4 linked regions of the Homo sapiens genome follow. The protein of the gene in region 3 interacts with the protein of the main gene of each other region in a pairwise test. Each region holds a gene or a part of one and is shown on either strand. Other genes may lie near its edges. The genes, in order: UBASH3A, MCMBP, ZNF474 and FRMD8.

What was found.
Region 1: the proteins of ZNF474 (region 3) and UBASH3A interact in binary tests that used the Homo sapiens proteins (3 or more experiments, as listed by UniProt).
Region 2: the proteins of ZNF474 (region 3) and MCMBP interact in binary tests that used the Homo sapiens proteins (3 or more experiments, as listed by UniProt).
Region 4: the proteins of ZNF474 (region 3) and FRMD8 interact in binary tests that used the Homo sapiens proteins (3 or more experiments, as listed by UniProt).

The regions. Positions count from the first base shown.
Region 1 is NC_000021.9:42,399,972-42,406,937, forward strand, and holds the start of UBASH3A (ubiquitin-associated and SH3 domain-containing protein A), read left to right. Parts: upstream 1-3,930; 5' UTR 3,931-3,974; coding exon 3,975-4,087; intron 4,088-6,336; coding exon 6,337-6,390; intron 6,391-6,966. UniProt on the Homo sapiens protein: Interferes with CBL-mediated down-regulation and degradation of receptor-type tyrosine kinases. Promotes accumulation of activated target receptors, such as T-cell receptors, EGFR and PDGFRB, on the cell surface.
Region 2 is NC_000010.11:119,841,822-119,848,857, reverse strand, and holds part of MCMBP (mini-chromosome maintenance complex-binding protein), read left to right. Parts: intron 1-1,144; coding exon 1,145-1,245; intron 1,246-5,431; coding exon 5,432-5,604; coding exon of another isoform or gene 5,605-5,610; intron 5,611-6,262; coding exon 6,263-6,386; intron 6,387-7,036. UniProt on the Homo sapiens protein: Associated component of the MCM complex that acts as a regulator of DNA replication.
Region 3 is NC_000005.10:122,146,546-122,153,545, reverse strand, and holds part of ZNF474 (zinc finger protein 474), read right to left. Parts: intron 4,223-7,000; exon of another isoform or gene 2,943-4,222; intron 1,768-2,942; 5' UTR 1,556-1,767; coding exon 461-1,555; 3' UTR 1-460.
Region 4 is NC_000011.10:65,382,612-65,389,661, reverse strand, and holds the start of FRMD8 (FERM domain-containing protein 8), read right to left. Parts: upstream 3,026-7,050; 5' UTR 2,901-3,025; intron 2,626-2,900; coding exon 2,541-2,625; intron 302-2,540; coding exon 134-301; intron 1-133. UniProt on the Homo sapiens protein: Promotes the cell surface stability of iRhom1/RHBDF1 and iRhom2/RHBDF2 and prevents their degradation via the endolysosomal pathway. By acting on iRhoms, involved in ADAM17-mediated shedding of TNF, amphiregulin/AREG, HBEGF and TGFA from the cell surface.

The sequences.
Region 1 (6,966 bases), on a different chromosome or scaffold from region 3:
TCTCGATCTCCTGACCTTATGATCCGCCCACCTCAGCCTCCCAAATTGCTGGGATTACAGGCATGAGCCACCGCGCCCGGCCCCAAAAGAATATTATTTAAAAATCAGGCAGGGCACAGTGGCTCACACCTGTAATCCCAGCACTTTGGGAAGCTGAGGCAGGTGGATCACCTGAGGTCTGGAGTTCCAGCCGGGCCAACATAGTGAAACCCCATCTCTACTAAATATATAAAAATTAGCCAGGCATGGTGGTGTACGCCTGTAGTCCCAGCCACTCGGGAGGCTGAGGCAGGAGAATCACTTGAACCCAGGAGGCAGAGGTTGCAGTGAGCCTAGATCATGCCACCGCACTCCAGCCTGGGTGACGGAGTGAGATTCTGCCTCAAAAAAGTGAAAATAAAACTATACAAATAAATATCACAATATGCTCACATTTAATGGTGAAATATTGAGACCTTGTCCTCTGAAATGGAGAGTTATACAAGAAGGTGCACTAGTACCACATCTGTTCAACATTTGACTTGGGTTCCAAGTCAGTGCAATAAAGGCAAAAAAAATAGAAGGAACTATTATGCGTAGAGCTGCCATGAACATTCATAGACCAATCTTTGTGTGGACACACGTTTTCATGTATATTTACCTTTATAAGAAACCCTCCAAATGTTCCCCAAAGTGGTTGGACAGTTACGCATTCCCACCAGCACAGTGTGAGAGCTCCTGTTACTCCCCAGCCTTGTGTAAACCTGGTATTTTCCATTTTAGCTCTTCTGGTGGGTGTGCTGTGGAATCACATTGCGGTTTTAATTTGCATTTCCCTGATGACTAATGATGTTGAGCATCTTTTCATGTCTATGTATATATCTTCTTTTTAAAAGTATCTTTTTTGATACTTTGCCCATTCTTAAAATAGATGCTTGTTTTCTTATTATTTGTTATAAGTATATATAAAATATTCTGTATATTCTAGAAACAAGTCCTTTGTCAGCTATATGTATAGTGATACTTTCTCCCAGTCTGTGGTTCACCTTATTATACTCTTTAAGATGTCTTTCAAAGAGCAGAAGTTTTCAACTTTGGTGAAGTACAGTTCATCAACTTTTTCTTTTGTTGGTTTATTCGCTTTATGTCCTAAGAAAGTTTTGCAAACTCCAACATAGCAAACATTTTTTTTCTAGGTTTTCTTAAGGAGTTTTATAGTTTTAGCATTTACATTTTGAGTTAATTTTTGTATATAATGTGAGGTAAGGGTTGAGGTTCGTTTTTCCTCCTACCAATATGCAGTTTTCCTAGCACTAATTTTTTTTTTTTTTTTTTTCAGACAGGGTCTCATTCTGTCACCCAGGCTGGAATGCAGTGATGCAATCACAGCTCATTGCAGCCTCGATTTCTTGGGCTTAAGCCATCATCCCACTTCAGCCTCCTGAGTAGCTGGAACTAATGCCACCATGTCTTTTTTTTTTTTTTTTTTAAGAGACGGAGTCTCACTCTGCTGCCCTGGCTGATCTCAAACTCCTGGGCCCAAGTGATCCTCCCACTTTGGCCTCCCAAACTGCTGAGATTATGGGCTGAGCCTCTAGCACCATTTATCAAAAGCATTATCCTTCCCCCATTGAATTTCATTGGCATCCTTGTTGAAAATCAATTGATTGTAGGTGTGAATCTTTTTGCACTACCCAATGACACACTATGACACACCATGGCAACCTGATTTGTAAATGTTTATGAAAAAGCAAAGGACAAAACCAGAGGGTTTAGCACTATAGTGATTAAAACAGTGTAGAATGGGCACAAAGAGGGACAAATCAAACAAGAGAGCACACAAGTTAGAAAAAACTAATCCATATACAGTCACTTGATTTACAATAAGCCTCCTACTGCAATTCACTGGGCAAAGGATAGCCCTTTCAATGCGGAAGTAGATGAAAGTTTACCCCTACCTCACACCATACACAGAATGAATTCAAATGGATCATAGAGCTAAATATGAAGAGCAAAAGTAGCAAAACTTCTAGAACAAAACATAGATGATCTTCATCGATGTTGGATTAACAACAATCTCTTGAACAGGATGCAGAAAACTCTAACCAGAGTTCCCACAAATTGATAAGAAAAGCAAACACCCTAGTGAAAAAAAAAAAAGAGCAGAATATCTGAACAGGAACTTCCCCAGAGAGGATATTCAAATGGGCAATAAGCCTGTGAAATGGTGCCCAATATCATTATCCCTCAGGGAAATACAAATGGGAACCACAGGGAGATACAACTACACACCACCCCCACCACAGAGTGGCTAAAATTAGGGACTGATAATATTAAGTGTGCATGAGGATATAGAGCTTTGTACAACTGCTTGGCAGTTCCTAATGGAGTTTCACGTGCTCTGTGATCCAACAACCCCACTCCTAGATGCACACCTAACAGAAATGCATGCACAAGGCACTCAAAGACACATACAAGAACGTCCTCAGCAACATTAGTTACAATAGCAAAACAACCGAAAACTTCCTGAATGCATATCAACAGAGAAATGGATAAATGAATTATGTTATATTTATTTTATTTATTTATTTTTGAGCTGGAGTCTCACTCTGTCCCAGGCTGGAGTGCAGTGATGCAATCTTTGCTCACTGTAACCTCCACCTCCTGGGTTCAAATGATTCTCCTGCTTCACCCTCCTGAGTAGCTGGGATTACAGGCATGCACCACCATGCCCAACTAATTTTTGTATTTTTTAGTAGAGACAGGGTTTCAACATGTTGGCCAGGCTGGTCTCGAACTCCTGACCTCAGGTGATCCACCCCCCCCTTGGCCTCCCAAAGTCCCAAAGTGCTGGGATTACAGGCGTGAGCCACCACGCCTGGCTGGTATATTTATTAATCAAATACTACACAGCAATAACAGTGAACTAACTGTGGCTACAAGCAATAATGTGGATAAATTTTACAGGCATAATTTGAGGAAAAAGAAATGAGATATGATAGAGAATATGCTATATGGTTCTATTTACATAAGGCTCAACCACAGGCACAATTCATATACAAGTGATACAGCAGTTTACTTTCTGGGGGAGGGAGGAGATAACTGGAGGAGGCTGAGCTGGGGGCAGAGGTGCATCTGAGGTTCTGAGAATGTTCCAGAGCAGGCTATCTCCACCTTGGCACTAGTGAAATTTTGTTGGGGAGACTGTCCTGGGCACTGTGACATTCCCGGCCTCTACCCACTAGTGCCGGTACCACGATGTCCACCCCACCCACCACCACCCCCGCCTCATTTTGGAAACAAAAATGTCTCCAGACATTTCCAAATGTCCCCTTGGGTGGAGGAGGTACAAAATTCCCCTGGTTGCCCTGTTTGATTTTGGGTCGTGGGGGAATTAGGGGTGTGGGCTCATTTATGGAAATTCCTTGAGCTATACACATATGATTCATCAACTTTTCTGTACACATATAAAGCTTTTAAAGTTTTTAAAATAAAAAAACAAGTCAATGAATGACTGAAAGAACCAGTAAGTTTTCCAGCAATCCGAGACAATAGATAGAGTGGGGTTTAATGTCTTGTTCACAGACAAGGAGACTGGGATCCAGGGTGGGTCAGGGCAGGGGGCCAGCAGGATCCAGGAGGGAACTCATTCCCTGACTTCTCCTCCGCTTCCTTCCCCCATGCTCTCACGCATTCTTGCTCCCGAATACTAGCCAAGTCCCTACAGAGGCTGATCCCGTGCAGGGGCTCGGTTGGACCTTTAGCCTCAAACTCCCGTGGTGGAAACAGTTAGGATTGGTGGACGCTGCACCCAGCATCCTGCAAACAGAATTCTGAAAACTGATATCTCATGCAAACAGGATATCAACTTTTGTCAGAAAGATCAAAAAGAGCTTGAGGTTTTTCTTCACAGCCTCAGCCTTGCCTCTCCCCCTCTTGCTTTATCTCCTCATTTCTGTGTGCAGGCGAGCTTCTTGGCCTAAGGGCAGGAAGAGATGGCAGCGGGGGAGACGCAGCTCTACGCCAAGGTCTCCAACAAGCTCAAGAGCCGCAGCAGCCCCTCGCTCCTGGAGCCCCTCCTGGCCATGGGCTTCCCGGTGCACACCGCGTGAGTACTGCCCAGAGACCCCGGGGCCCAGCCAGTAAGGCTGGTGCCAGACCCTGCTGCGGCCCCCGGCATGGAGCTGCAGGGGTGTAGGGTACGGCTTCCTGCCAAAGCAGTGCACCTTGCAGGGTAAGACACTGCCTCTTCACAGGGCCCTCTTCTGCTTCTCGTAAATGAGGTGATCTTGACCAAGCTTGTCCAACCCACATGAGGCCCAGGACAGCTTTGGGCTTAAGCCATCATCCCACCTCAGCCTCCTAAGGCTGCCCTGTTCAATTTGTGTTGGCTGCCCAACACAAATTGGTAAACTTTCTTAAAATATTATGAGATTTTTTTTTTAGCTCATTAGCTATTATTAGTGTTAGCGTATTTTATGTGTGGCCCAGGGAGGCACAAGAATACCCCTGATATTCTTGACCTTTTAAAGACCAGCTCGGCTGGCTGACTGGGGGACCCTGAAATTTGTGAAAATCAGAAGCCATGTATTACTCTGGGTGCCCCATTTTGGGGGTTTGGAGGAGATTGGGGCCTGGTTGTAATCTCTTTGTGTGCAGCTCAGTGACTCTGAAAGTGGCGTTTCAAGATATTCAAACTCTAACGTGAAAGGCCCCAAAGCCCGCTGAGTCTCTAACACTGGGACCAACTGTCAGCAGGGCTGTGCTTCCACGCTGCCCGGGGAAAGTCACTTGTCCTCAGAGACAATCCCTTGAGTGTCTGATAACGAAACAAATGGGTAGGAAACTTCAGACACAGTGTGAGCGCGACCCTGCTTACCCAAGGGAAAGGCCTGCATGTGGAAGAGCTTAGCCTTCAGAGTTACCACTCTCGGAGAGGGAGGCCACGACACCAACATTGGGTTACAGCTTTCATGGCAAACCAGTGCCTTAAATCTGACCCATTCATTTTTTCACATGGAAAAATGTATCAGAAACACACTTTAAATCTGACCCATTCATTTTTTCACATGGAAAAATGTATCAGAAACACACTTTAGGTAACTTTGGGTTGGGGAAGGAGCTAAACTTTCCTTCCACACTATAACAAAAGCTTGGCCAAATTGGGTGAAGTAACTCTGAAGCTAGACAAACCCATTTCTTCTCCCCAAATCAGGGCTTTGTCGTCACTGTTATGTTCAAGCTAAGCCAGGGGCCTTTGAATGGGGAGTGGGGTCAGGCATGTGCAGGGCGGCCACCGGGCACCGTCCAGGCATTACAGACAAGGCAGCTTTTGTCCACTGCTCACCACCCAGTGCAGGCAGGACACTGGGCCCAGAGAGTGCATTAGTGGCGGAGGTGGAACCCGAACCAGCTTTCCATGCCTTTGAAGGAGTCCACGCTGGATTTTACTACTAAACGTATAGCATGGACTTCTACTCAAAATTCCTTCCAGTTTAAACATTAAGCACATGTTGGAGGAAGAGAAATGTGTGTTAATTTCCCCACACCAGAGCACCTCATAGTAAGTGCCCTGCACCAAGGCTGCCTTGTTCAAACCTCTCCAGGTGGCCACAGCCCCATCGGTGCCCACCCAAATAGCAGCATTCGGCATCATGTGGTGGGTTCCTCATGGACGCCCGCTGTTTCCAGTCTGCATTCCTGATAAATTACCTTTGCTATATTCCATTCTGTTTCATTTGGTCCAGTTCTGCCCAATTCAATGCAATGTACTTACGTCCCGGGTTACCGTGATGAATAAGACTCAGTCCTGTGTTCAGGGAGTTCTTGGTCTAGCAGGGGAGAGCCGTGGGTGCAAGGGGACTGTGTAAGCCGTAACAAGTGCCTGCCTGGGTGCTTTGGAAAGGGCTGTTTCCCAGCAGAGAGGTGTGGGAGGCGAGCCTGGGGATCAGGGTCGCTGATGCTGGGGTGAGGAAAGCGTGTGTCCGAGCCAGGGGCACGTTCCGCAGGGTGGGTCCATTTGATCTAGGCAGTGGGGGGGGGGGGGGCAGGCCAGGGAGAGGGATTGCAGGAGCGGGCGGAGGTCAGGTCCTCAGCCCTGAGACCCCGTGCCAAGGGCTGAAGCGGGTAGCCAGGGAAGGACAGTGAGGGGGAGGTGTGAGCTGGTCAGCATTGTCCAAAACCACGATGGCAGCACTCAGGGGACAGGCGCTAGAACTTCCAGCTGGAAGTTCAGCATCAGGCCCTCTTCAGAGCACCCCCCAAAGATCCTGGGTGTGCAAGGCCACACCCTGCCTCTCTGACCCTTTTCCCAAGAATGGGCGACGTGACTTTGTGTCTGTGTCTGCTCTTCTGCAGGCTGAAAGCGTTGGCAGCCACGGGGAGGAAGACGGCGGAGGAGGCCTTGGCCTGGTGAGTGCAGCTGCTTCTGTAGACCCAGGGGCGTTTGGGCTGAATTCCCTGTGCCTAAGGACTCCCTCCCACCAGGGCTGATACCAGGAAGAGCCGGGCGCCTCTGGGTGGGATGGGGCCACTGCGGAAGTGAAACAAAATAACCTCCCTGCCTACCCATAGTGCACTGAGGGAGGGGCACAGGGCTTTGGTTAACCATGGAAAGAGAAAGAGAGAACTCTGAACAAGGCTTTCTTCACTTACAAACCTGATTCAATCCAATTTGACTGCCAAGAAGAACAGGTTCATGTGCTTTGTTGAGTAAATGGGGAAGACATGATTGTTGTGTTGTGATAAGCACGTAAATGAGGGTAATTGTTAGAATAAAGTAATTAGGTTAAAAATGGTAACATTTGGGTTTATATTAGTACTGCTAATATTCAGCCTATTTCAGTAATTGAAGAGCAGGCTGGGATTTTGCATACTTGTGTTTGATTATGTCCTCCTCAACTGCCTACTACGATGGATAAGATTGAGATAGATAGGAGGATGTTTGTGTTTATTGATGGAAAGATTTGAGACATAATTGACATCTTT
Region 2 (7,036 bases), on a different chromosome or scaffold from region 3:
AATATCTTCTTCATTTTTGTCTTCTTCCTTCTCTCAGCAAAACCTATTTTTCACTTATATTTAAAATAAAACAGAAGGAAGAAAACTTTTAATAGTTTGTTCTTCCATCTTACTTATTCTAGTGTTTTGATCCTGATAAATGAGCAAGTGATAGAAGGTTCAGAAATGATTGTTAAGGATTTCTATCCTTATTCTTTGTGCATTTTGGGTTTTTTTGTTTTTGGGGGGTTTTTTTGTTTGTTTTTTTGAGGCAGTCTCACTCTCTTGTCCAGGCTGGTGTGCAGTGGCACGATCTCGGCTCACTGCAACTTCTACCTCCTGGGTTCAGGCAATTCTCGTGCCTCAGCCTCCTGAGTAGCTGAGATTACAGGCATGCACCACCACACCCAGCTCGTTCTTTATATTTTTTGTAGAGATGGGGTTTCACTATGTTGGCCAGGCTGGTCTCGAACTCCTGACCTCAAGTGACCCACCCACCTCAGCCTCCCAAAGTTCTGGGATTCCAGGGGTGAGCCACTGCACCCAGATTCTCAGTGGTTTTAACTGAAATGACACTTAAGTCATATGGCACAGGGACCAAAATTACCATTTTTTCCCCTGCCTTGCTTCTACCAGGTCTAATCAGTAAATGGCCTTGACTATTACTAAGTCCATCATGACAGACAATTTTGAAAGGTTTTTTTTTTTTTTTAAATTGTGAAAAATCTTCTGGCCATTCCAAGTTTTGTGTTAATCCGATGTTGCAGTTTATGAATAAATGCAAAGTTAATCATCTTGTTTTTGTTTTTTCCTTTTCTTGGTGTGGTTTAATAGGTTTTGAGATAGTGCACAGTTCTAGTTTTAACTGTCAGCCTTTGGGAAAAGGCTTTTTTTAATTTTAGGAAAAGCCTTTTTTTTTTGTAGTACTGTGGTATATTGAAAACAGACATTAGTCTGGAAGTTAGGCATCCTGTGTTTTGGTTTTTCACTTATTTGCTAACTAGCAGAATGACTCTTGGTCTCAATTTATAAAAATTTATAAAATAAAGGACTTGCTTTAAGGTCTGTTTCCTGATCTAAAATTCCAAGATATTGGTACTTCAAGACTAATATCTTAAGCTTTGTGTCTGTTCTAACAGTGTGATTTCATGTGGTCTCTTGTTAGGTTTATGAAGATTGGGATTGTTTCAAAGTAAATGACATTCTTGAGCTATATGGCATACTGTCTGTGGATCCTGTGCTGAGTATACTGAATAATGATGAAAGGTGAGTCTGTGTGCTCTTTTTTTGGTCTCCTTTATTTTTATATAATTTCAAGTTTTCAGGAGAGTTACAGGATGGTTTTAAAGAACTCCCTTTTCCCTTTCTCCCAGATGTACCAGTTGTAAACACTTGCACCCCATGTGTTTTGTCATTCATTTGTGCTCTCTATGCACACATTTTTCTGAAACACTTGAAAGTATGTTGCAGAAATCAAGCCCTTTTACCCCTAACTGCTTGTCAACATTTCCTAAGAGTACTGACTTTCTCATATATAATTAGAGTACAGGTATCAAAACTAGGAAATTTGCCACAAATATACAATACACTAATCCACAATCTATACTTAATTTCACTAATTGTCTTAATCATGTTCTTTCTTACACGTCTCCCTTCTGCATCCCCCAGTCCAGGGTTCAGAAGCTCGCTCATTCTCTATTTCTACTGAGTTCATACTGTATTTCTGATTCCAGTTCAGCACCACAGGTGTCGTTCTGCTTGTTCTCCTTTCTGTATTAGTGTAACTCTCTTAAACTTGATTCCCATTTTTCACAATCTTATCATTTGCACATTTTTACAACATAGAGAAGGGAATTTCAGAATTGTTAACTCATACCTTTACAAAACATAAACCTAAATAACTAGAGTTCAATCTGAAACAGTCCTCAGCCTTTGTCTTTCATGGTCTTGCCACTTTTTTTTTTTCCTTAAACAACAGAAATATATGTCTTCCAGTAGTTCTGGAGGCTGGGAAGTCCAAAATCAAGTTCCCAGCAGATCTGGTTTCTAGTGAGGGCCCGCTTCCTGGTTTACAGATGGCTGTCTTCTCACGTGGTAGAGAGCAGACAGCCTTGATGCTTTTGAAGAGTGTAAGCCAGTTACCAGTTACTTGTTTCCTCATGGTTAGACTCAATGTTTTGCATTTTTGGCAGGAATATTACAGAATTGATGTATCCTCAGTATGTTACAGCAGGAGGCATGCGATGTCAGTTTGTCCCTTTACTGGTGAGGTTAATTTTCATTAGTTGGTTAAGGTGGTGACTTCCAGATGTCTCTTCTGTAAAGTTACATTTCTCACTTTGTAATTGACAAGTAACTTGGAGGAAGGTACTTGGGGACATAAATATCCAGTTTCTCATTAAACTTTCACCAATTTATTTTAGCATTCATTGATGATTCTTGCTTGAATCAGTTATTACTTTGTTGGCAATTTTCTAACGCAGTACATTTATTTATTGGCATTCTACTATAAAAGATACCTCTTCCATTTGTTTATTCAAGTAATGTATTTACTTATATTTAGTATAGACTAATAGATTCTGATTTTATTCAATGTTAATATCATTATTTTATTTCGAGACCCAAATTTTCCCAGATTTGGCTAGTGGGAGCCACTTTAAGCAGGTGCCGGGTCCTTTTTTTGAGATGATGTTATCATTTTTTAACATTTATTTTCTGGCATATTAAGCTGTTGCAGCTTCATCGTATGCTTTGAAGATCTGAGTCCTAGATGTGCTCGTTGGTACTGGATTAGATTTGCATCTAGGCCCTTAAAGTAGACAGAGCTAGGATACATGCAGCATATGGATACATATATACGCACCCACATTTAAATGCACACATACACACTCACATGCATGTTTTGTGTATTTCTAATGTCTGTGAAAAACCATGGGTTCATATTTCTGATTCCAGTTCAGCACAGCAGGAGTCACATGTTCTAGTTGTTCTCCTTTCTATATTTATGACTTCTTTTTCTAACAAATTTGATTCCCATTATTCACAATCTGTTGTTTCCCCATTTCTACCATATACAGAAGGGAATTTCAGAATTGGTAACCCATACCACTACAAAACAGAAACCTAGTAATTAGAGTTCAATACATTTCCAGTTCATTTTTATTTTAGAATGCAGCTGTGTAGTCAGAGCTATGTTCCACTTACTCAGGTAACTTTTCTTCCCCTTCAGTGTGATTTCATTATTTATTTTACTTAGAAAGATTCTCAGAGGTGTCATTCTCGGCTATCCCCATTCCTGCTGTCTGTTCCCACCCAGCCTCCTTAGGGAACCACAGTTTCTGGTTTATCCTTCCTGTATTTATTTTTTTACAAAAATATGAAGATACGTATACATTTTATTTCTACCTTTTTCTTCTATAAAAGGTAACATGGTATATATACTCTTACACTTTTTAATTTTTTTTATTAACAACATATCTTGGAAATCTAGACCTTCCTCATTCATTTTTGTTTTGTTTTGAGATTGCCAAAAGCAAGGGCTGATGTCCCTCATCTACACCAGAGTCCTCTTGTTGAATACCGGACATTAATCATCTTAGTTTCTGTGTAGGATGAACTTAACATTTTTCACAGTTAAAAAAAAATGGTACAAAACAAAAATTTTAAACAACTTTAAATAAGCTTAACCGTCCCTTAATAATAGTATATGAGATTGTTCATCTTGGCAATTTCTGATTGTGATGACTTTCCTGCTTTAGTTACTTCACTATTGATGTAGTTTAGTTTAGAGGTTGTATTAGGGGTCTCTAAAGGGTCAGAACTGATAGGATAGATGAATATATGAAGGGGAGTTTATTAGGAGAATGACTCACATGATCACAAGGTAAAATCCCACAATAGGCTGGGGAGCAAGGAAGCCAGCCTGAGTCCCAAAATCTCAAAAGTAGGGAAGCCACCAGTGTAGGCTTCAGTCCGTGGCTGAAGGCCTAAGAGCTCCTGGTGAACCACTGGTGTAGGTCCAAGAGTCCAAAAGCTGAAGAACTTGGAGTCTGATGTTTGAGGGCAGGAAGCATCCAGCATGAGAGAAAGGTGGAGGCGGAAGACTCAGCCAGTCTGCTCTTTACATGCCTGCCTTTATGCTGGCAGCTGATTAGATGCTGCCCACCCAGACTGAGGGTGGGTCTGCCTCTCCCAGCCCGCTGACTCAAATGTTAATCTCCTTTGGCAACACCCTCACAGACACATCCAGGAACAATAATTTTCATCCTTCAATCCAGTCAGATTGACAAAGTATTAACCATCACAGAGGTTAAGAGCACAGACAGGCAGGCAGCCTGGGTTGGAGTCCTGACTTGGCCACTTACTAGCTATGTCACCTTGGGCTTGGTTTCCTCATTGTAAATAAGGGTAGATGTGAGGTTTTGGTGAATTTGTACGTGTAAGGCATTGAACGTTGTCTGTCACATGGTACGTACTATGGAAAAGGTTATTATGCTTGTATTAAAAAATACAGGAGTATGAATTTATTACTTCAGTGTCTATAGATTCTATAAAGTCAAGATCTAAAAGATTAGCTATTTGTTTTGGTCGTCTCACAAATCTATCATCTGCAGATTTATTTAGCAAGTCTGAAAAATTCATACTTTCATTGCTTGTCTACTCAGTCTTCGAGGGATCATGTAAGAATTAAATTTAGGAAAAACAATTAGCAAGATAAGAGATGAATGGATTCTCCACACGCTGAATAATAGATACCAGATGGCTTTTGAGAAAAAGACCCCAGTTTTTGAGATCTGCTGTCAAGTATTCGATGTCCCGGCCAATAGTTCAAGGAGTACCTGTGTTTTGAAATAGCCTTATGAGTGACATCCTACATTCCATTTATTGAAGTGCTGAATAACAAATATTATTGTTTCTGGCCAGGCATGGTGGCTCACGCCTGTAATCCCAGCACTTTGAGAGGCCAAGGCAGGCAGATCACTTGAGGTCAGGAGTTCGAGACCAGCCTGGCCAACATAGTGAAACCCTGTCTCTACTAAAAATACAAAAATTAGCCAGGCATGGTGGTGTGCACCTGTAATCTCAGCTACTCAGGAGGCTGAGGCATGAGAATCGCTTGAACCCAGGAGGCAGAGGTTGCAATGAGCCAAGATCGCATCACTGCACTCCAGCCTGGGCAACACAGTGAGACTCCATCCAAAAAAAAAATAAAAATAAAAATACCGTTCTTGAAAAATTGAATAAATGCATTATTTCATGATATGTCTTAACAAGCCTGAAGTCTGTGTGATGTAACACTTTAGAATGAGAGGCCACTTTCTGTTCTTTAAGGAGATGTACAGGTGGAAATATTCTTGGCTTTAACTCTAATTTTGTTTTCCAAGATGCACATTATTTTTGCATCTGTGCAATTGATGTCTCTCTAAATTGAAACTTTATCACCTCTCCACAGGGATGCCTCTGCACTGCTGGATCCGATGGAGTGCACAGACACAGCAGAGGAGCAGAGAGTACACAGTCCTCCTGCTTCATTAGTGCCGAGAATTCATGTGATCTTAGCCCAGAAGTTGCAACACATCAACCCATTATTGCCTGCCTGCCTTAACAAAGAGGAGAGCAAAACCTGTAAGTGTAAGTGTTACAGCCTAGTCAACTATCGACTGTTAGCCTCAGTGTGTCCAGAGCTGCCTGTAACGTGCTCATAGTGGAATTGAGAGTCAGGTCTTCATTCCTCACAATAAGTGTTTTCAGTAATCTCTCTCTCGTTGCCCCATTTTTCTCTTACATTAATTCTCTTCACTGAAATGAGGACAAAAGAGTATACAAGGCTGGGTGCAGTGGCTCACGCCTGTAATCTTAGCACTTTAGGAGGCCAAGGTGGGTGGATCACCTGAGGTCAGGAGTTCGAGACTAGCCTGGCCAATATAGTGAAACCCTGGCTCTACTAAAAATACAAAATTAGCCAGGTGTGGTGGCGTGTGCCTGTAATCCCAGCTACTCGGGAGGCTGAGGCAGGAGAACTGGAGGCAGAGGTTGCGGTGAGCTGAGATGGCACCATTGCACTCCAGGCTAGGCAAAAAGAGCAAAACTTGGTCTCAAAAAAAAAAAAAAGGAGGATGCAAACTGCCTTATTTTTAAGATTAGCATCACTTACTGACGGATATGTTAAGCTTTACCTACTGTCGACTGAATTGTGCTTTGCTCACGTAGTTATTTTTTTACCTAAGACACTTGAGAGGAACTGGAGTGTGTGTCCTGACTCAGGTCTTCCTTTCTCCTTCAGTTGTTTCAAGTTTCATGTCCGAATTGTCTCCAGTCAGAGCAGAACTTCTTGGGTTCCTTACTCATGCCCTTCTGGGGGATAGTTTGGCTGCTGAATACCTTATATTACATCTCATCTCCACAGTGTAAGTGCTGTATCCTGGTGGGAATTAGGGGAGTTTGGTGTGTGTGGAAGTGGAAGAGCGGGAAGATTGCTGGTGTCATTTGTGTGTTTTCCTTATTGGGCTTCATCACATGGTTTTTATCTGTCCAGTGTTAACTGTTATACCAAATCACAGACAAATTCCTTTTCTCACAGTTCACATTTAGCATTTTGATTATGTCCCCTTAAATTTTAGAGCCAAAATCAGATAAAGCAGTGGTCCCCAACCTTTTAGGCACCAAGGACCCATTTCATGGAAGACCATTTTTCCATGGACCGGAGTGGGGATGGTTTCAGTATGAAACCGTTCCACCTCAGAACATCAGGCATTAGTTAGATTCTCATAGGGAACACACAGATGTGCAGTTCACAATAGGGTTCGCGCTCCTGTGAGAGTCTGATGCCACTGCTGATCTGACAGGAGGCGGAACTCAGGCGGTAATGCCCACTCATCCACCCCTCACCTCCTATGTTGTGGCCCGGTTCCTAACAGGCCATGAACCAGTACTGGTCCACGGCCTGGGCGTTGGGGACCCCTGAGATAAAGGACCTGGCTGATGAGTAAAATGAGCTGTTTTATCCCTTTTGCATTCTGAACGCTCTGTTTATACATCCCAAGGCGCCCACGTCATG
Region 3 (7,000 bases):
TAATTGTTGCTAAAGTCATTGGGGGTTTTTGACACAGATTCTATTTTAGTAAGATAAACTCAGCATAACCCAGCATTGCCAAAAATGAATTCCTAAGGTAGATGACTAAAATAAACCGACAATAAATATTGGCTGTTGGAATGGGAATTATATCTCTGTAATGTAGACACAGCATTAATGACTCATTTTCAAATTACTGTCTCTCCCAGGGATTATTTGTATCAGGGATCAGGGAAGAAAGAAGTCCATCTCTTCTTCTTTTAGACAGCAGAATTGAAGAGGAATATGAACCCATCAGGCAAGGATGTTCTTATATCTATTCAGCCAAGAGAGGTATAGGCCCTGGAGTTCAACAGGGAGTTAACTTGAACAGGCTGCTTTGAGGCTGATACAAGGCATTGATAGAAAAAATACTAGGGGCTGAGGTGGCTGATTCTGGGGATAGTTTTCTCTTGTTCCCCTACAGGCAGAGGGCACCACCAGGTTCACCTAATGCGTCTTGTGTGGCATGAATTACCTTATCAGTTACACTGGGTGCTGCCCTGTTCCTTTGCTGCTTGGAATTAGTGTACTCTTTTAGGCCTCCTTTACTCCCTAAATTCAAATTCTGATATTTTGGCCCATAAGGATGAGTTTTACAACTTCTCTGGTGTACCAGGAGGCGGTCTGAGGTAAAGATTCGGCTACAATGTGGGCAGAACACAAGCTGAGCTTGATTTGGTCCCGCTTGGCTGGACTGTGCATTCGGAAGGGGCTGAGGCTTCTGTGGGAGTGGCTGGTGGAGCTCCACAGGGAGCCGGTCATTTTCCATTTTCCACTTTTCCAGGCATTTGGGCTCATGAATAGGAAGGGACAGGGTGCCAAATTCCTTACCACATATGTAGCAGATAACAGTCCTTGGTCGGGCTGGGGTTCCACTACAAGCTTTCTTGAGGCCAGTAAGATGATCAGAACTGTTTGAGTGTGGTGCTCTGGGACCCTCACCCTTTGGCTTGCAGCTTCTGTGATGAACAAGAAGATGATCTGGCAAGAATGTGCGGCCACAGGATTCACAGGGCAGCAGCTGAGCCTGGGCACTCTGAAATGCAGCCTCGTTAGTTGCCTGAAGACTGTAGGACCCACTGCTGCTGAGAGACTGTGGTTTGGAGGGTTCTGGCCTCCTCAAATGCTTGGGCAACTTGCTGTTTTCAATATGCCACTTCTGCAAGCACTGGGGTTCATGAATGGCAATTGACTGGGACCCAAATTCTCGGCCACAGATATAGCATACCCGGAATCCAGGCCTGCGGGCCGGGATCACAGGGGGGCTAAGCTGGCTTTCCGATATAATTCTTCTACTTGACAGTTTTGATAGTATCACAGTCCCAGGTCTCTTTTTCTGAGTGTCTGTCTTTATATTTTCACCAGGATTAACACTCTCTGTTTCTGGGGAAAGGCTAGAATAGGAGTCACTAGAGAGAAGCCCAGCTTGGTTGATAAGGAAAGTGGGTTCTTTAGAATGGTGAAAAGTTTGTTGTAACTTATTGGAAATTCTTTTCTTCTTTCCTCTTTCCATTAACAAAGATGTCTTTCTGTAGTGCTTGCTCTGATTTCAGGCCAGACTCACTTTGGGCTTCTGCTTAGAGTGAAGGTTAGTGAGGTTAGTTGTCCTGGGGTTCACACCGTTGCCAGTACCTTAGCCTCACAGACCGTGACTCAGAGCTTCATTGCAGGACGGCAGTCTGGAATGTTGGAAAGTCCTCATTAAAGCTGAGATGTCTCCAAGATCTGTGGAGGCGGGTGGGAGACATAAGAAGTTATTATGTAAACACACACACACACACACACACACACACACACATTTAGGTTGTTTTGTGTGTGTGTGTGTGCTTTTTTTTTGCTTGTTTTAAATATTGACCTTGTATACTTTTTGACTAGCACAGTAACCAGCATATGGGATTTGGTCAATAAACTGACATAAACCTGAGGAAATCTTCCATCATCAATTGCACTATCACTGTATTGAAAATCGTGTTCTGCCCAAAAAGTTAACTTGACAATTACAGCACATCATAGATACAGAAGACGCAAAGCAATAGAGGCTGAGACCAGGGTGGTGAGACCATAGAAGAGAAAACTGCAAACTGTGAATATTAGATTAATGAAATCAGCAGGTCATACGAAAAGACCCCCTGGGCCCCACAGAAACTTCCACTACGTCAGAGATCCTTAACTTGTTAGTGACATGGATTCCTTTGACAATTCTGTGAAGCCTATGCACTTCTCAGAATAGTATTTTTATAAGTAAAAATAAAAATTGTTGCTATCACAGGTGAAATCAGTTTTACTGAAATAATTTGTCAACTGTTTCTAGTTGTGATATACATTTTAATTGAGGTAAAGTTGTGTCACAGACTTCTTGAGTGTCCATGGACCTGAAATTAAGAACTCTTGCAGAAGAAGTAATTCAAGAATGAATCTTATGAGGATTATCAGGATAGCCCTCAGAGGGACATAAACTTCTTGTGACACATCATGTATTCACTTTTGTTTATTATGGGAATAGGGTATTAATAAAGTGGAGCTATAATTCTCCAGCAAAGAGTACAGCCTAGGCCGGCACCCATCCTGGTGGGATATCTGCAGATCTTTCATGGAAAGATGATACACAGATGCTGCTTGAGGCTCTTTTTTTATTAAAAAGGTATCATACCTACTTTCTTGTTTTATATATGTATGACTTCCAAATATTTTTAAATATAAAACAAAGGCCCTGGATTCCCCAAGGATCCCCACCAGAAGAAGTGGCAGCTTAGATATCCATTTATGGGAAGAATCTTAAATTTGTATATTGGGAAAAGTTATGAGTAAATTTTACCGTGGGTTTATAATCTGGCTCCCCAAAAAGATTATTTCAGAAGCCTCAGGACCTTTTTCATTTCCTTTATCGTTTCATTTATCAGGGTGATAAACTCTAAAGCATCCATTCTTAACCACAGAAGAGCAGCCCCTGGTATGAAGCTGGATCCTCTACATCACGGCAAACACTTCAGTTTGGACAGTGCAAGGCCAGCAGTCCTGGTAATATGGAAACCCTGGGCACTGGATTTGATAAAGAACAAGAAGAGCTGTGATATCTGTGCCCAGCTCCTGTACTTTGGTGCCAACAAAGGTCTGAATCCTTGCCTTTAAGAGTATCAAATCAGGTCTGGCACAGAGAAAGAAGTTATTCTTCATTTTGACAGATTCTAAGACAGTAATGTTAACAGATGTGGGAAAAGTATGTGTTGGCCCCAGAGTGGCCAGCATAGAAAATAAAACAGAGAAATTTATCACTCGATCAGTACCATCTAAAAGAGAAAGTAGATCTATGGAACATAGGAATAGGGTAAAATTATTTCATTAGGTTTTAAATCCAGCCCGTGGGTTATTTCCACAAACCATTCTGCTTTATTGGCTCTGTTCACCGAGGAATTTTAGTTTATCATTTTCCTTGATACTAGGAAATTGCAGACACTAATATGACTTAAGAAGACAGATTAGAAAAATCAATGCAATCAAATAAGCCTCCTTCCCCTAAATTGTCTCTGCCTCTCTTTCTCTCTCTCTGTCTCTTTCTCCCTCCCTCTCTCTCTCTCTCTCTCTCACGCGCGCACACACACACACACACACACACACACAGAGTCAATTCTGTTTCCAGCAGATTAGAATACTGAGAAATCCCCATGACTTTCCCCAGCAACCCCTCCATCTCCCTTTTGATAAGGCAAGAGAGGTAATATTTACTGAATGCCAATTATATGCCAGATAGGGCACAGATTTTTTGTAAACATAATTTTAGTTAATTCTCAAATGATTATGAAGCAGGTATTATTATTTCAACTTTATAAGTAAAGAAACTGACTCAGAAAAGACAAGTAATTTGCCCAAGACTGTCAGTTTCTAAATGACAGAACTGTGAATCAATTCCAGCTCTCTTTGGCTCCAATACGTGGCTCTTTCCATTATTCATTCTGCCTAAATTCCTCCAGCAGAGCTTCTTCCCTTTAGTTTTTATCCCTGTTTTAATGTATTATCCATATGCCTCAGGGGAAGGTAACTAAGCTCTCACCAGCTGTTATGCTTCCTTTTAGAAGAAAGAAGAGGCAAGAAGGAGGAGTGCAGACAAGGCACAGAGGAGAAGCCTCTGAGAGGGACAAAGCAGAAGAGAGAGACTGGGGCTATGGAACACAATGTTTTCAATGTTAAGTGACAGGGGACTTTTTTTCTTCAACTTTTATTATAGGTTCGGGGTACATGTGCAGGTTTGGTATATGGGCATATTGTGTAATGCTGAGGTTTGGAGTACACATGAATCTGTCTCCCAGGTAGTAAGCATAGTACCTAATAGGTAGTTTTTCAGCCCTTCCTCCGCTTGCATTCACTATCTGTTGTTCTCATCTTTATGCCCACGTGTACTTGACGTTTAGCTCCCACTTATAAGTGAGAACGTGTGGTATTTGGTTTTCTGTTTCTGCATTAAGAATCACTTTTTCCAGGCCGGGCGCGGTGGTTCATGCCTGTAATCCCAGCACTTTGGGAGGCCGAGGTGGGCGGATCACCTGAGGTCTGGAGTTTGAGACCAGCCTGGCCAGCATGGTGAATCCCCGTCTCTACTAGAAATACAAAAATTAGTTGGGTATGGTGGCTGTAATCCCAGCTACTCAGGAGGCTGAGACAGGAGAATCGCTTGAATCCGGGAGGCAGAGTTTGCAGAGAGCCAAGATCGCGCCATTGCACTCCAGCCTAGCTGACAAGAGTGAAACTCCATCTCAAAAGAAAAAAAAAAGAAAAAAAAGAATCACTTTTGCCATATACAGTTGTTTTCTAGATGTAGTTTTTCCTGAGTGATGTGCAGTACAGATTCTTTTCTTAATTTCACCAATATCTTCAGAAAAATCTACATAACCAGCAGAGGTAGGGACCAGTTGGGGGAATGGGGCAGACCAACGATGAATGATGTGTTTTGTCTGTCTTGATCATGGGCACAGGGTAAAAGTGAAGGCTGCCCCAAGAGGCCAGGTAGTGCTCAGTTTGAAGCCATGTCACCATTTGATTAGGGATAGATCTTACCGCACACAAACATTTGTGCACTGCAAATATTTTCTCTGCAGCAAACACGATGAAACATCACAAAACGTCCATTTGAATCTTCAACTTTTCTTTTTCTACCATCCCTTTCCTTCTCCAATGTTCTCCTGAAATTTTTCCCTTATTGTGACTAAAGGTATCAAAATATGAAAGATGAGGTAGCTGGAAGCCAGTGAAATTTTTGGGAACGGAGGTGTCTTATGGAGAAATGCGTAATGTTTCTGCCAGTGACTGTGCAAAGGCAACATGCCATGGCACAGCAGTGTTGGTTGCTCTCCCTTTATAAGTTAGCTCTAAAAGCAAAAGTGCTGGAAAATACTAAATGCATATACTTAAATCACATAAGAAATTGGCCTGTCACCCAAAACGTCATAAAGCAATGTTGCTAGTTTATAAAGAGAACCACTTTGCAAAGCCAGACAGTTTTACCTCAAGCATCTCTGGAGAAATGTTCACTCAGTTGGCCTGAATTATTCGTTTTGACCATATCTGCACATAGGACATTTACAGAATGTCCTGGAAGGCATCACCTTTTATCAACATGATGCCATTTTTCCATTCTCTTCAGGGTTCATGGGAAGGGAGAGACAAACACACAAAGAAGAATGTAATAACCGTGGAAATCCAAAAACCATCTTGGCATTAGAAGGTGTCTCTCTAAAAGAGAGGGAACAGAACACAATGAAAAGTGTGATCATATCTTTTAAAAAATAATCTAGTCCTTTGAGGATGAGTTCATGTCCTTTGCAGGGACATGGATAAAGCTGGAAACCATCATTCTGAGCAGACTGTCACAAGGACAGAAAGCCGAACACCTCATGTTCACACTCATAAGTGGGAACTGAACAATGAGAACACTTGGACACAGCACGGGGAACATCACACATGGGGGCCTGTTGTGGGGTGGGGGGATGGGGGAGGGATAGCATTAGGAGAAATACCTAATGTAAGTGATGATTTAATGGGTGGAGCAAACCAACATGGCACATGTATACCTATGTATCGAAACTGCACGTTGTGCACATTTACCCTAGAACTTAAAGTATATAAAAAAATCTAGCCCTTTGAAACAAAAGAAATATAGTTGATACATGATATGATCCCTTCTCTATTAGTATTGAATTCAAATTCTTTAAATGAACAAAAACATAAACAAGAAAGATGGAGTTGGGGCTGATGGTGGCTCTGATCAAGATTCTAAAATAGAGGAGGTTCATCTTCAATGTTGTTCACCCACCCCATTCAGCAGCCTCCACTCTCCAGCCTAGTATTCTTGTATGCTCACCAGTCCGTCTTACCTATGAAATCTTGCTTTCAAAAAGGAACTGATGGACTCATTTACACCAAGGCTTATAATTGATGAGATAATGTCCCTTCTAATGTCCGGCAGAGACAGTTAGTTCCTTACCAATAGCCATTCCACTCAACTCCCTCAATTAATAGAGCCCCAACTTTCAGCTGGGCACATCTACAAGCTCCTTTGTAGTTAGTGAAAATATTGTGTGGAACTTGTAAGAACAATTCTTGAAAAGGAAGAAGAGAACAATTGCTTCTCTTCCTTTCCTTCTTACTGATGCTTCGAAGATGGATGTGATGACTGGCGCTTTAGCAGCCAGTTGAGAACAGATTTCATTTATGTAACACTTGATATGACAGAGCAGAGGCCTGGATGGACTTGGGTCCCTGGTAATGCTGGAACCATCATAGAAGCCCTGGAGTGCCTTTCTTGGACTTTATTTACATAAGAAAAGTAAATTTTTATTTTTATTTTAGCCATTTTTAAGAGTCTGTTATTCACATGGAAACCTAATACTAATTGAGAGATATCTGTATTTTAATACTGGTGATTAGCACAATTCATCCTAATAATGTTATTTCAAATTTCAGATTT
Region 4 (7,050 bases), on a different chromosome or scaffold from region 3:
AACCCAAGTCCCACCTTTCCCCATGGGCAGTGGCCAGCGGCTCCCCAGCGGCTCCAAACACTGCCCCCTCCCTCCTGTACTGGTCAGTGCCCTTCCAACCCTCCAGCCTGGGCTCCTCACTGCCAAGCCTTACCCAGCAGAGGGGAGACCAGCCAGAGCGCGAAGACATCCAGGGCGATGTCTGGAAGCTGCAGGACCTCGCGGACAGCGCGGTGCAGCTCATGGGCACTGAGCGAGGGCAGGTTCTCCACAGCCAGGGGCACCACCGTGTCATCCGCTAGGTATACCAGCACGTCAGCCGCTGTGATGGAGACCAGGCAGGCTCAGCTGAGGCCTCTGCCTGGCACAGCCAGGCCAGGCCAACCAGGCACCCTCTACCACCCACTGGGGCTGGAGCCCCCACCCTACACCCCTCAGGGGTGACCAGGGCTACGCTCCTGAGACAGAGTCCTCGCCAGAGGCAGAGCCCCAGCAGCCCCAAAAGACCCTATCACGAATGCTATCTATTAGTGCTTCCTTGACACCCTTAAACCACCCAGAAACCCAGTAACTCCTGCCCAGAGACCAGCCCCACCGCAATCCCCCAAGATTCAAATTAAGCCTGGCCATTGCAAACCTGCCCCTCACCACCATAGCTGCCCCAAGGATTCAACTGTTCTTCTGCCCTGAACAAGAACATGCCACAGATGTGAAACTACAGCACAGAGAGGCTGAAACCACAGCATAGAGAGGCTGAAACCATCCTGAGGCTATGGCAGTTAGTCTGGCTGGCTGGCAGGAGCGAGAGCTGGTAACCCGCTGCTGTCCTTAGGCAAGTCTCTCTCTGACTGAGGCTAAGATGCGAAGAGATAATTCTTTAGGTCACCCAGGTTAAAGCAAGTTCCAGGTCTCAGCTTCCTTGGGACTCTTTAAGTCTGAGGACTCTTTAAGCCTCAGGAGTCAATACGAAGCAGGCTAGGGAAGAACAGCCCAAATAGCTGAGAGTTCCCTTGTGACAACTTGTGGGTTCCAGAGCCAAATGGAGACACCTGGAAGAGCAACCAGATTCAAATCCCCATCCCTGAGACTGCAGGCATGGTGAAGGAACACTGGAGTTTGGGGCCGACATACTCGGGTTCCCATCCTTGCCTGGTCGCTGGCCAACTTCAGGGAGTCAATTTAAGTTGTCAGTTGCCTCATCTGTAAAAGTAGAGCTAATACTCCTCCCTCCAAGAGTGTGTGGAAGGGAAGGGCACGGTTTCTCATCTACACAAGAGAAGGTGCTCCTCGGACCCCCAGTCTGTTATGCTCCAGCAGCTACTCTCAGAGATCACAAAATCACTTCGAGGAGGCTCAGGTTCAGATCTACTTCTCAGGCAAGAACTGAGGCACCAGAAGCTGCAGTATGTAATCACCTGGAGAGCTTCCACAGCCTGCCTGGGACTTAACCTCCCTAGGGCCCAGTTTCCTCCCTATCAAATGAAGATCATGATATGATCCCTGTTTTTTTTTTTTTTTGAGACGGAGTTTCACCCTCGTTGCCCAGGCTGGAGTGCAATGGTGCGAGCTCAGCTCACCGCAACCTCCGCCTCTCAGGTTCAAGTCATTCTCCTGCCTCAGCCTCCTGAGTAGCTGGGATTACAGGCATGTGCCACCACGCCCAGCTAATTTGCATTTTTAGTAGAGACAGGGGTTTCTCCATGTTGGTCAGGCTGCTCTTGGAATTCTCAACTTCAAGTGATCCACCCGCCTCGGCCTCCCAAAGTGCTGGGATTACAGGTGTGAGCTACTACGCCCAGCCTGATCCCTGCTTTCAAAAGGCTGTTTGGGAGAAAGAAAGGACACAGCCGGGTGTGGTGGCTCACGCCTGTAATCCCAGCACTTTGAGAGGCTGAGGCAGGCAGATCACGAGGTCAGGAGATCGAGACCATCCTGGCTAACACGATGAAACCCCGTCTCTACTAAAAATGCAAAAAATTAGCCAGGCGTGGTGGCGGGCGCCTGTAGTCCTAGCTACTCGGGAGGCTGAGGCAGGAGAATGGCGTGAACCCCGAAGGCGGGGCTTGCAGTGAGCTGAGATCGCACCACTGCACTCCAGCCTGGGCGACAGAGGGAGACTCTGTCAAAGAAAGAAAGAAAGGAAAGAAAGAAAAAAAGAAATGACACAAAGAAAGTGAACGTGTCACTTTCTTTTTTGTCTATGTTGCCCAGGCTGGTCTCGAACTCCTGGGCACATGTGGTCTGCCCACCTTGGCCTCCCAAAGTTCTGGGATTACAAGCATGAACCACATCAGCCTTCACTTTTCATTCATATAATCTCATTTGAATTTCACAGCTATGTTAAACAAGCTCATTTTACAAATGAGAGCGAGGACCCAACCTGGCCAGTAAACTAGTGACAGAGCCTCTGACTTCTGTGAGTTTTCCACATCTGAATGTACCTTATTATTTCTTAGTCGATACATAAATTATCTTTAATGAAAAAGAAGACAAGCCAGAGCTACTTCTCCAGGGCTGGGGTCCCAGGAGGGTGTGGAAGAGGAGATGCGGGTGGGACCCACCTCGGGCTCCCACGGAGGACACGCTGCTTCGGTGGGATCGCTCAGCGGGGCCGGGCTGCCCGGCACTGCCTTCTGTCCCGTCCATCTGCAAAGGCAAAGAGAAACAGCAGTTACCGGGAGCCAGGGATGGGGGGCTGGAGGTCTCCTCAAGCTCTCGGTGAGTACGGTAAGGGATCCCAGGCTGGGTCCGCAAGGTTGAGCGGCGCTGCCTGGAGGGGCCAAGAGTGCAGACCGGGCGCTGGTGGGAGGGGTGCGGGTTGCTACGGTCAAGAACCGGGGGTCGACCTGGATGCCCAGGCAGGGCAAGGCGCACGCCCAGCCGGGGACGGAGGCCCGGGCCAGACGTCGCTGTGCTCTCACCTCGCAGGGTCGCAGAGCCCGCCACCTGAGAGGCAAGGCTCCTGCCTGGAATCCTGCCCCGCCGCCAAGCCCGCCACCGCCCGCACTCGGGCTCCCGCTAAGGACGCAGCTGACCGGGAAGCGACGCGGAAGCCACGGCGGGAGGAAGCGCGGCGCCCGAGGCCCCGCCCCCTTCGACCCGGGGGAGCCAATGGGAGCCCAGGGCCGCCCCGCGCGGCCCGCGCATGCCCGGACGCCAGCCTCGCGTGTCTCATCACGCCCGTGGGGTGGCCGCGTCACGTACCAGCCCCGCCACCACCAGAGTGACCCAGAGCGAGTTTCCCTTCACAAAGGCCCCGACTGTTGGCCTGTAAGAGGGTTTGGCGAAGATTCGAGAATCAGGCTAGGGGCGTTGGCCTGCCCACGCTGGGTCTTCGGGCTAGTTCCCTGCCTGTGAAATGGACACTTCCTGGCACGTGCCAGGGATCCATGCGGCGCTGGCAGCGGCCTGTACCGTGGCGCTCTCGGCAGTGGTCAGGAGAATGAGTCCTGGCCCAGACTCATCCTGGACAAGTCCCTTCTCCTCTGGGCCTCAGTTTTCCTCATCTGTAAAATGAGGTGGTTGAACTGAATGACCCCCAAGGACTATCCCTACTCTCTAAATGATTATTAATATATGTCTATGTCGGCCGGGCGCGGTGGCTCACGCCTGTAATCCCAGCACTTTGGGAGGCCGAGGCGGGCGGATCACGAGGTCAGGAGATCCAGACCATCCTGGCTAACACGATGAAACCCCGTCTCTACTAAAAATACAAAAAATTAGCCGGGCGAGGTGGCGGGCGCCTGTAGTCCCAGCTACGCGGGAAGGCTGAGGCAGGAGAATGGTGTGAACCCCAGGGGGCGGAGCCTGCAGTGAGCCGAGATCACACCACTGCACTCTAGCCTGGGCGACGGCGAGACTCCGTCTGAAAAAAAAAAAAAATTTATATATATATGTCTAAATCAGAAAACCAGGACAGACACTCTGTTTTTCCAGGGAGCAGTGACATGAGCCCTTACTATCTTACACAACAGCCTGGGAGACCTTGAGGTTTTCCCAGGCTGGGAGGAGACTTGGGGCCCCAAAGAGGCAGGTGTGAAACCACCTACCCTCAGGGCCATGTCACTGACATGTCCTGGTAATGCAACATGTGTGCATCTGAGATGTGGAACTCAGGGAGAAAAATAAGTCCATGGGGCACCTTCTGGGGCCAGAGGAACCAGAAGTTGTCCCAAGTGACAGCAGTGGGCTTGGTGATCAGGAACAGAGGGCAGTGGGTTCACTTTGCCCTGGTTCCCTGGGATTGGAAAGCAGCTCTAGCTCCTGACCCAGTCCAGCCTTCTTTGGTATGTGAACCAGCTCTGCCTGCCCTCCTATGATCCACACTGCCCCACAGCTGAGCCCATGACATCACATTTGCCTTGCCAATGTGACTTAAGGACTTGAGGAAGCTCAGATGTGGGCTGCAGGGAAGGGTGTCCAGTGGGGGCAGGCATCTCCTTCCTGGTTCTCAGCTCTGGGACCCTCAGACCAGGACACACTGTATCTCCATGGCCTCTTGACCCAGCTGGAGTGAAGCAGGAGCAGAAGAGTTCAGTGTTGTTTTGAATGCTTACTGGATGCGGGGCTTGTGCTAGGTCAGGGGATGGAGACTGAGGGGAGACGTGGCCCTGCCCTCAGAAAGTGTCTGTTGTGGTTTAATTGGTGAGTTAAGGAAGAGGGGAAAGAGAAAGAAGCCCAGGAGAACAGCACATTTAAAACCACAGCACTTTGGGAGGCCGAGGCAGGAGGATCGCCTGAGGCCAGGAGTTCAAGACCAGCCTGGGGAACATAGTGAGACGCCATCTGTAAAAAACCCAAAAATTAGCCAGGTGTGGTGGCACACATCTGTGGTCCTAGCCATTCAGGAGCCTGAGGTGGGAGGATCGCTGGAGCCCAGGAGTGTGAGCTCACAGTGAGCTCTGATAGCGCCATCCTGCCACTGTATTCCAGCCTGGACAACAGTGAGACTCTGTCTCCAAAAAAATAAATAAAACCACAGAAGATGACAGCATTGCCTTAAGAACTATGAAATGCTACAGGCAGGAAAAGTCTCTGCTCACTTGCTGTGTGTGGGGCACTGGGCCAGGCCCTTTCCCCTGTTTCCTGTGTCATTCTCATGCGTCCTGAGAGTGGAAATAAGTATTAGCAGTTGCCATTTACGTGCCAGCCACTTTTTAAAGTGCTTTAATCCTTAGAACTCACTAAGAGGTGAGTATCACATCTCTGTTTTATGTCAAAGACTGACACCTGGGAGTGTCTGCGGTGGTGGTGGGGAGGCTAGAACCCGGGTCTAGTCAAGGAGGGGCACTGGGAGAGAGTCCGGGAGGCTGATGGTGGGGAAGGAAAGGCATTCCAGGTAGTGGGAACTGCACGAGCATGGTTAGGACCCCAGGAAAGACCCCCGCTGTGTGAGAGCATAGCAGGTGGGTGGCACCATGGGGGAGGCCTTGAACCCCAGGATGACAGATATGGGGCAGGCGTGTTAGACAGTAAGAACATTTTGGAGGTTGTGAGCTAGAGATTCACAAGATGACGCCATGCTTAGGTGGGCTTCCCTTCAGCAAGGCTGTAGGGAAGTGGGAATGAGGGTCTTTCTCAAACTGGGGTGAGGCGGTGAGATTGGAAAAGAGAATGAGACCCATTCTGAAGTGAGGGAGGAGGCGGCCTCCAGCCTTTAGAGCTGAGAGGCTTAGACATCAATTAGCCCGACTGCTGTCCTACTTTGGCAAACAATAATAGACCCCAAGGCCCACAGAAGAGGTTGCTCAACATCACTGAGAGAGATAATGTAACCGCCCATTGGGTTCACCTTACCCTCTGCCTAGACAGAGCCAATTTGTCAAGACAGGGGAATTGCAATAAGGAGAGTTTAATTCATGCAGAGCTGGCTGTACGAGAGACAGGAGGGTTTTTTTTTTGTTTGTTTGTTTGTTTTTTTTTTTTGAGACGGAGTCTCGCTCTGTTGCCCAGGCTGGAGTATAGTGGCATGATCTTGGCTCACTGCAACAGCTGCCTCTCGGGTTCAAGCGATTCTCCTGCCTCAGCATCCCAAGTAGCTGGGACTACAGGCGCCCGTCATCACACCCGGCTAATTTTTGTATTTTTGGTAGAGATGGGGTTTCACTATGTTGGTCAGGCTGGTCTCGAACTCCTGACCTCAGGTGGTCCTTCCGCCTCGGCCTCCCAAAGTGCTGGGATTACAGGCGTGAGCCACTGCGCCTGGCCTGTATCAGTTATAGTTTTTGCAAAGGCAGTTTCAGGAATAAGAAGCAGAACCAGGACTGCAGCCCAAGCCACCACGAGAGGCCAGTCTTTGGGGATGGTCTTTTAGGATGATCTTTGGGGGTGGCCCAAGGAGCCCCAGGCAGCTCCAGAGGCAGGAGGTAGGAGGTCCTGTTTCCCGAATCTGTCCACCCGGGAGAAAGCAGCAGGGGTGGGTGGGTTCTGCCTTGGCCACAGTGAGAGGAGAAGGGAGAGAAGGACTGGGCCTTGGGCGTCCCCCATGGGAGACTAGGAGCTGCGGGGAGATCTGGAGGGGAGGGTGCAGGTGTCACTGGGCCTTGATGTTTCCCAGGGCCGTTTGGTGATGGGAAGAGGGAACTGGAGCCCCAGGCTGCCGCTGATGCTGCTGGCTGACATTTCCGTTCATTCAGTCACTCAGGATTTATTGAGAGCCCACCCTGTGCCACCCGCTGTGCACAGAACACCCAGAGATCCCTGTCCAGACAGACAAGTTCTTCCCATCGTATGTTGGCGTGATAACTGTGATGGAGAAAGAGAGGAAGAGCCAGCAGTGCCTCCGGCTGGGGAGGCGGGGCAGACCTCACCCAGGTGGTGACATTTGAGCCCCAGCTGGAGGGGTGCCAGGGCAAGAGTGCCCAGGAAGAGGGAAGAGCCAGTCCACAGGCCTGGAGACAGAAGGCTGACTGAAGAAGAGTCTGGAGGCTCGGGTGGCTGCAGCAGAGAAAGCAAGGGGGTGGGTGGCAGGACGTGAGGTCAGAGGAGAATGGGCGGCACCCTGTGGCTCACAGATCCTTGAAAGGGTTTTGGTTTTGACTGAGCAGAATGGTGCCATTGCAGATCAACACG